Linked DNA regions of Homo sapiens: region 1 is linked to region 2. Evidence: fine-mapped expression QTL. A gene starts in region 2. The other region holds a variant in brackets. All regions are shown on one strand. Distances are between the middles of the regions. Region 1 overlaps ZXDC (ZXD family zinc finger C). Region 2 holds the start of ZXDC (ZXD family zinc finger C).

Region 1 (2,906 bases), 31 kb after region 2:
TTGCATTTGATGCCATGGCGCCCTTTACTAGTGAGGACCCAGGGCTTCATGGTTATCGTGAGGACGTGGTGTGGACCCCATTTGTTTGCTTTGGCATGTCCTTAAGCATCCCTAGATAAACATACTTGCTTAGTTAACCCAGGAAGTTTATGATTAACTTTCAGCCATCTTAAATGTTCACGACATACCACCAGACTTCAGGGTGTACCGTCAGGGATTCTAGGACAGAACACCCTGCTCAGGCCTGGGGGACAACTCAGCAACTGGGGCTTGGCCCCTCCTCCCCTGGCTGCCCTGTTCTCTCACAGCTGTTGGCCTGGACCCCTGCATCCTTTCCAGGTTCATCTTCCAGGTGCAGTCCTTGCTGGAACGGACTCTCTGAGAAGGGGTGTCCGAGCTCATCTGTGGCAGGTTCTCCCCCTCACCCACAGCTGTCCTTCTGCTTGCCAAAAAACGGGGAGGCTGCAACTCTCCACCAGACTTCTACTGCAGTGTGTTGCCTTGGAGTGCACACAAAAACAGGATATCCTTCCAGAGCACCAAACCCAGGGGCAGTTCCAAATACTGGTTTCAGGGAAGCATCCTGTAGAATAATACCGACATTAAAACTTTAATGAGCCGGGCTTGCCAGCTTACCCTTCCTGTGCAGAGATGTGTCTAGGGGTGGACGCTGAGATGTTCTGCTTGAGGTACATCAGAGAGGGGATGTGGGGCATGGATGGACATCTCTCGTAGAAAGTCCTCACCTTTGCCAGCCCTCTGCTGTTGTCAAAGAATGTATTACTTTTCAGGAATGAGCCCTATGTATGTATAAGCGTGAGCAATTCTTTTCAGCTATTGACTTTTTATCCCTAGACGAGTTGTTAGCTGGGAAGAAAAATACCTTCTGATGCAAATTAGTGGTGGTGTTTCTTCTCAGTGTAACTGGTGTCTACAGGACTACCTGAGACACTGAATTAAATGTGCGGATTGAAAAGAAATTCCTGTGATTTTTTTTCATATTGTATGCTGATACAGAAGTTGAAACCAATTTAGCTTGTCATGAGATATTCTCGTTACAGCCTATCTTTTTTCCTGTTGTAAAAGTAATACAAGTAAATTGTTAATAAAGATAGAATCATTTTAGTTACTGGTTTAGGTATAAAAGGAAAGTGTAACCATGTCTAGCAACATTAGTGGAATTATTTCTGATTTTGCACCCAATTCTGATTTTCCCATGATTC[G/A]AATGGCACATACATTCTAGCACACATTTTGCAAAGGAATATTAGGATTCAGTCATATTTCTTGCTTTGTAGGTAACTTAGAGCGTGGCGTACACATTTGGCATTGAATCATGATGAATGGCTCAGTTTTATCTTGTTTATGTTATAAAACTTGATAATAAATACTTGATATACATCATTTAAAATCTTGCCTGCTTTTAAAAGAAATCTGGAGAGATACACTATTCACTGCCTGCCTTAATTTATTCTACAGTGGTTTTCATATTATTATTATTTTTTTTTTTTGAGAGGGAGTCTCGCTCTGTCACCCAGGCTGGAGTGCAGTGGCATGATCTCGGCTCACTGCAAGCTCTGCCTCCTGGGTTCATGCCATTCTCCTGCCTCAGCCTCCCGAGTAGCTGGGACTACAGGCACCCGCCACCACCACTGGCTAATTTTTTGTATTTTTAGTAGAGACGAGGTTTCACCGTGTTAGCCAGGATGGTCTCGATCTCCTGACCTTGTAATCTGCCCGCCTTGGCCTCCCAAAGCGCTGGGATTACAGGCGTGAGCCACTGCGCCCGGCCAATATTTCTAATATAATAACATGTTTCAGTATTTTTATTTGAATTTAAAAATGAAGCCAGGCCTTTTATTAGAAAGCAAGCGTAATGCGACTGTTCTGGCTGCAGCACCGGCCCTGCTGCTGGGGCTTCGTGGGCAGGCAGTTCCCCCTCACTTGAATAAACTCAACCTGCAGCTGCAAAGTTGTGATGACACATGAGCATCTTATTTTAAAAAAGTTTTTAATTGACAAGAATAGATGCTGACCATGTCTAATTCTAGCAAGAAGTAATATTTAGACACAAATACATGAACTAACTGGGGAAGAAAACCACCAGTCAGTCCCACTCCTCTTGAAAAGCATTTTTAATATAATTTTGCTTTTAATATCATAATTATCTATCAAAGTTTCTGATATATTTTGTTTTGATTTGTTTTGCATTACTAATAATTGCAGTTGTAACAGTTCAAACCAAAAATGTTAATGCCTAGAAGTTAAATAAAAGTTAAGTTTATGTACATATTTTTATATGCTAGGGTGATAAAAGACTTGAAAGCATAGAAATGCATTCAGGTAAAATTCTGGAGGTAAGTGGGATAGTATACAAGCTCACGGAGGATATAGGCACGCTTCATTTTTTGCAGTTGACTTTTTTTTTGCTTTTTACAAATTGAAGGTTTGTGGCAAACCTGTATCCAGCAAGTCTGTTGGCACCATTTTTCCAACAGCATGTTCTCACTTCATGTCTATGTCGGTATTTGTTAGCAATAAAGTATTTTTAAATTAAGGTATGCATTGTTTTAGACATAATGTTATTGCAGACTTAATAGACTGCAGTACTAGGAACTGATGTGAAGTTTCCTCAAGGAGGGGTGAGTAAGTTTTGTGCCCCAGGCACCTCTCTTGCCCCAGACCCAGCCCTGCTCTTCTGTCTGAAGCAAGTAGAGCAATTAGAAAAAGAGAAACCAGGCGTGGAGAACAGTCAGAGATGATCCAGAGCGAGGGTTGCTGGGTTTTCTGGAACACTGATGGATGAACAGAAAGGAAGTATTTTGTAATGGAAGTGCATCTCCCTGCAGTGAGGGGGAACTGAATCTGTGTTACCCAGAAACCTCCTGGTTAGCATTTGCACTTCAAAG
Region 2 (2,906 bases):
CTGGGAAAAAGAGGTGGGGTGCGGGGGAGGGGTGGGGGGGGCAGCGGGAGAGTGGCGGGAAGTGAGGGCAAACAGGTAGGGGAGGGTAGACTAGCAAGGCCATAGGCGCCTTCGGGAGCAAGGTGGAGGTGAGCATAATTTGATGTGCAATTTTTAGATCATAAAACGGTGCCCCGTGGATGGGAGCGAGTGGAGCGGAGGGAGACCGATGACCAGCTAGTAGTTATTTTTCAGGTACCCAGGAATAAAGTGCGGGTTTGGATCTGAGTGGTGGTGAAGTTGAAGTGGAGGAGTCCAGATTGAATGCGGAGGTGTACGGTGAGGTGGGGGAGGGTGAGGACCGGAAACAGTAAGTAATTAAGCTGTTGCAGAGTGAGGTTGTGCCAAGTTTAGTAGGAAATACAGTTGGAAATACAGGCAGGGGTCCTGCGTATCAGGGAGGCCCCGTGTGCCGAGCAAGGACCTGGGCCAAAGCAAACGAGGTCTGTGCGCCAGCGGCGGCAGGCGAGCTTGCACTTAAGTGAGCTGGGGGTAGGCGTCCGGCCTGTTGGACAGGTTCGAATCCTGGATCTGCCGGCTGCCGAGTGACTCGAGCTCGCCGTCCCTGTTTCCTCACCCCTGGGTGACCGCGCACGCTTAATCAGCTCGGACAGGTACAGCCCCTGGGACGCAGTCAATGCCTACGAGAGGTTGCCTGTTAAGTGTCTGAAATATTAATACGATTCGAAGTCAAGACAAGCCTCGTCTTCCACGCCAGCGGGAACGAGAAGGAATCGCTCAGCGTTGGGAGCCTCACCCCGTCCCCTGTCGGTCCCGTGCCCCGCCGCTCGCCCTCGTAGGTGCCGGCGCTCCGCCCCCCGACCCCGCGCCCCGCCCCCCGACCCCGCGCCCCGCCCCCCGACCCCGCGCCCCGCCCCCCGACCCCGCGCCCCGCCCCCCGACCCCGCGCCCCGCCCCCCGACCCCGCGCCCCGCCCTAGTCGGTCCCGGCGCCCCGCCCCCGCCTCCGCCTCCGGCGCCCCGCAGCCCAGCCTCACGTCACGTCAGCCCAGCAGGCCTCGCGCATCGCCCGGCGGCGTCCGCGCACGCGCGGTTCCGAGCCGGACTCTACGCCGGGGCTTGGCGCGGATCGCGTCCCGGGGCGGCGCACGCACACCTGGGCGGGGCGCGGGCAGCTCTGCGTCCGAAGCTGCTCCGACGCCGTCGCTGGGACCAAGATGGACCTCCCGGCGCTGCTCCCCGCCCCGACTGCGCGCGGAGGGCAACATGGCGGCGGCCCCGGCCCGCTCCGCCGAGCCCCAGCGCCGCTCGGCGCGAGCCCCGCGCGCCGCCGCCTGCTACTGGTGCGGGGCCCTGAAGATGGCGGGCCCGGGGCGCGGCCCGGGGAGGCCTCCGGGCCAAGCCCGCCGCCCGCCGAGGACGACAGCGACGGCGACTCTTTCTTGGTGCTGCTGGAAGTGCCGCACGGCGGCGCTGCCGCCGAGGCTGCCGGATCACAGGAGGCCGAGCCTGGCTCCCGTGTCAACCTGGCGAGCCGCCCCGAGCAGGGCCCCAGCGGCCCGGCCGCCCCCCCCGGCCCTGGCGTAGCCCCGGCGGGCGCCGTCACCATCAGCAGCCAGGACCTGCTGGTGCGTCTCGACCGCGGCGTCCTCGCGCTGTCTGCGCCGCCCGGCCCCGCAACCGCGGGCGCCGCCGCTCCCCGCCGCGCGCCCCAGGCCTCCGGCCCCAGCACGCCCGGCTACCGCTGCCCCGAGCCGCAGTGCGCGCTGGCCTTCGCCAAGAAGCACCAGCTCAAGGTGCACCTGCTCACGCACGGCGGCGGTCAGGGCCGGCGGCCCTTCAAGTGCCCACTGGAGGGCTGTGGTTGGGCCTTCACAACGTCCTACAAGCTCAAGCGGCACCTGCAGTCGCACGACAAGCTGCGGCCCTTCGGCTGTCCAGTGGGCGGCTGTGGCAAGAAGTTCACTACGGTCTATAACCTCAAGGCGCACATGAAGGGCCACGAGCAGGAGAGCCTGTTCAAGTGCGAGGTGTGCGCCGAGCGCTTCCCCACGCACGCCAAGCTCAGCTCCCACCAGCGCAGCCACTTCGAGCCCGAGCGCCCTTACAAGTGTGACTTTCCCGGTAACCGCGCTCTCGGGGGCGGGCGGGCTGCGCGGTGTTGCAGGCAGGTCTGGGGTGCCACGTCCGCCCCACAGAGGGGCCTGCCAGACCTTAGCAAGCCGGGGACGCAGGCTCTTCGGGATTTGTATTCTAGCTCCTTCCATGTCATTCGATTTGAGATCTTGGCCCTGCCCTGCCGCAGGGATTCCGATGGCAGGTAGCGCAGATCACCACAGCTGCGCTTCCCAAAGGTGGCGGCAACAGATATCCTTAACCTGCTTGTGCTTGATGAAAGCGGCACGCATCTTCACAGAGTGGCACGGAGCTATGTGTCAGGTCTTTATTTTCCTCAGTCTCGTCATTTGTTTACGGGGTGCACACTCCGTGCTAGAGGAGCAGAGATGAATGTGGCCAGATTCAGGACCTTAACACGCTGGGAGGATAGCCACAGGTGTGCGCACATCCTGGCTTTTTTTGCCTTTTGCACTTTGATTTCCGTTGAACCTCACAGTTTTGTGAAGTTTTAAAAATTAGCCGTCTGTGAAGGTTAAAAACTGTCCTCTTTTACAGATGAAGAGACAGAGGCCGAGCCTTGTGGATAAAGTCCACTGCTGGTGGCTGGGCGCGGTGGCTCACGCCTGTAATCCCAGCACTTTGGGAGGCCGAGGCGGGCGGATTACGAGGTCAGGAGATCGAGACCATCCTGGCTAACACGGTGAAACCCCGTCTCTATTAAAACTACAAAAAATTAGCCGGGCGTGGTAGCGGGCGCCTGTAGTCCCAGCTACTCGGGAGGCTGAGGCA

The links.
Region 1: its variant is fine-mapped to the expression of ZXDC in whole blood (TOPMed, PIP above 0.99).

Annotation. Positions count from the first base shown.
Region 1 is chr3:126,443,134-126,446,039 of GRCh38, reverse strand. All of the region lies in intron 7 of ZXDC (ZXD family zinc finger C), which reads left to right. Among named protein-coding and RNA genes, the nearest start is that of ZXDC, 31 kb to the left of the region's middle. The variant G/A (reference allele first, on the strand shown) is at 1,224.
Region 2 is chr3:126,474,176-126,477,081 of GRCh38, reverse strand. It overlaps ZXDC (ZXD family zinc finger C), which reads left to right and starts at 1,191. Exons shown (of 10, transcript NM_025112.5): 1 at 1,191-2,123. The coding sequence starts at 1,217. RefSeq lists silencers at 922-1,431, 1,502-1,761 and an enhancer at 2,319-2,844.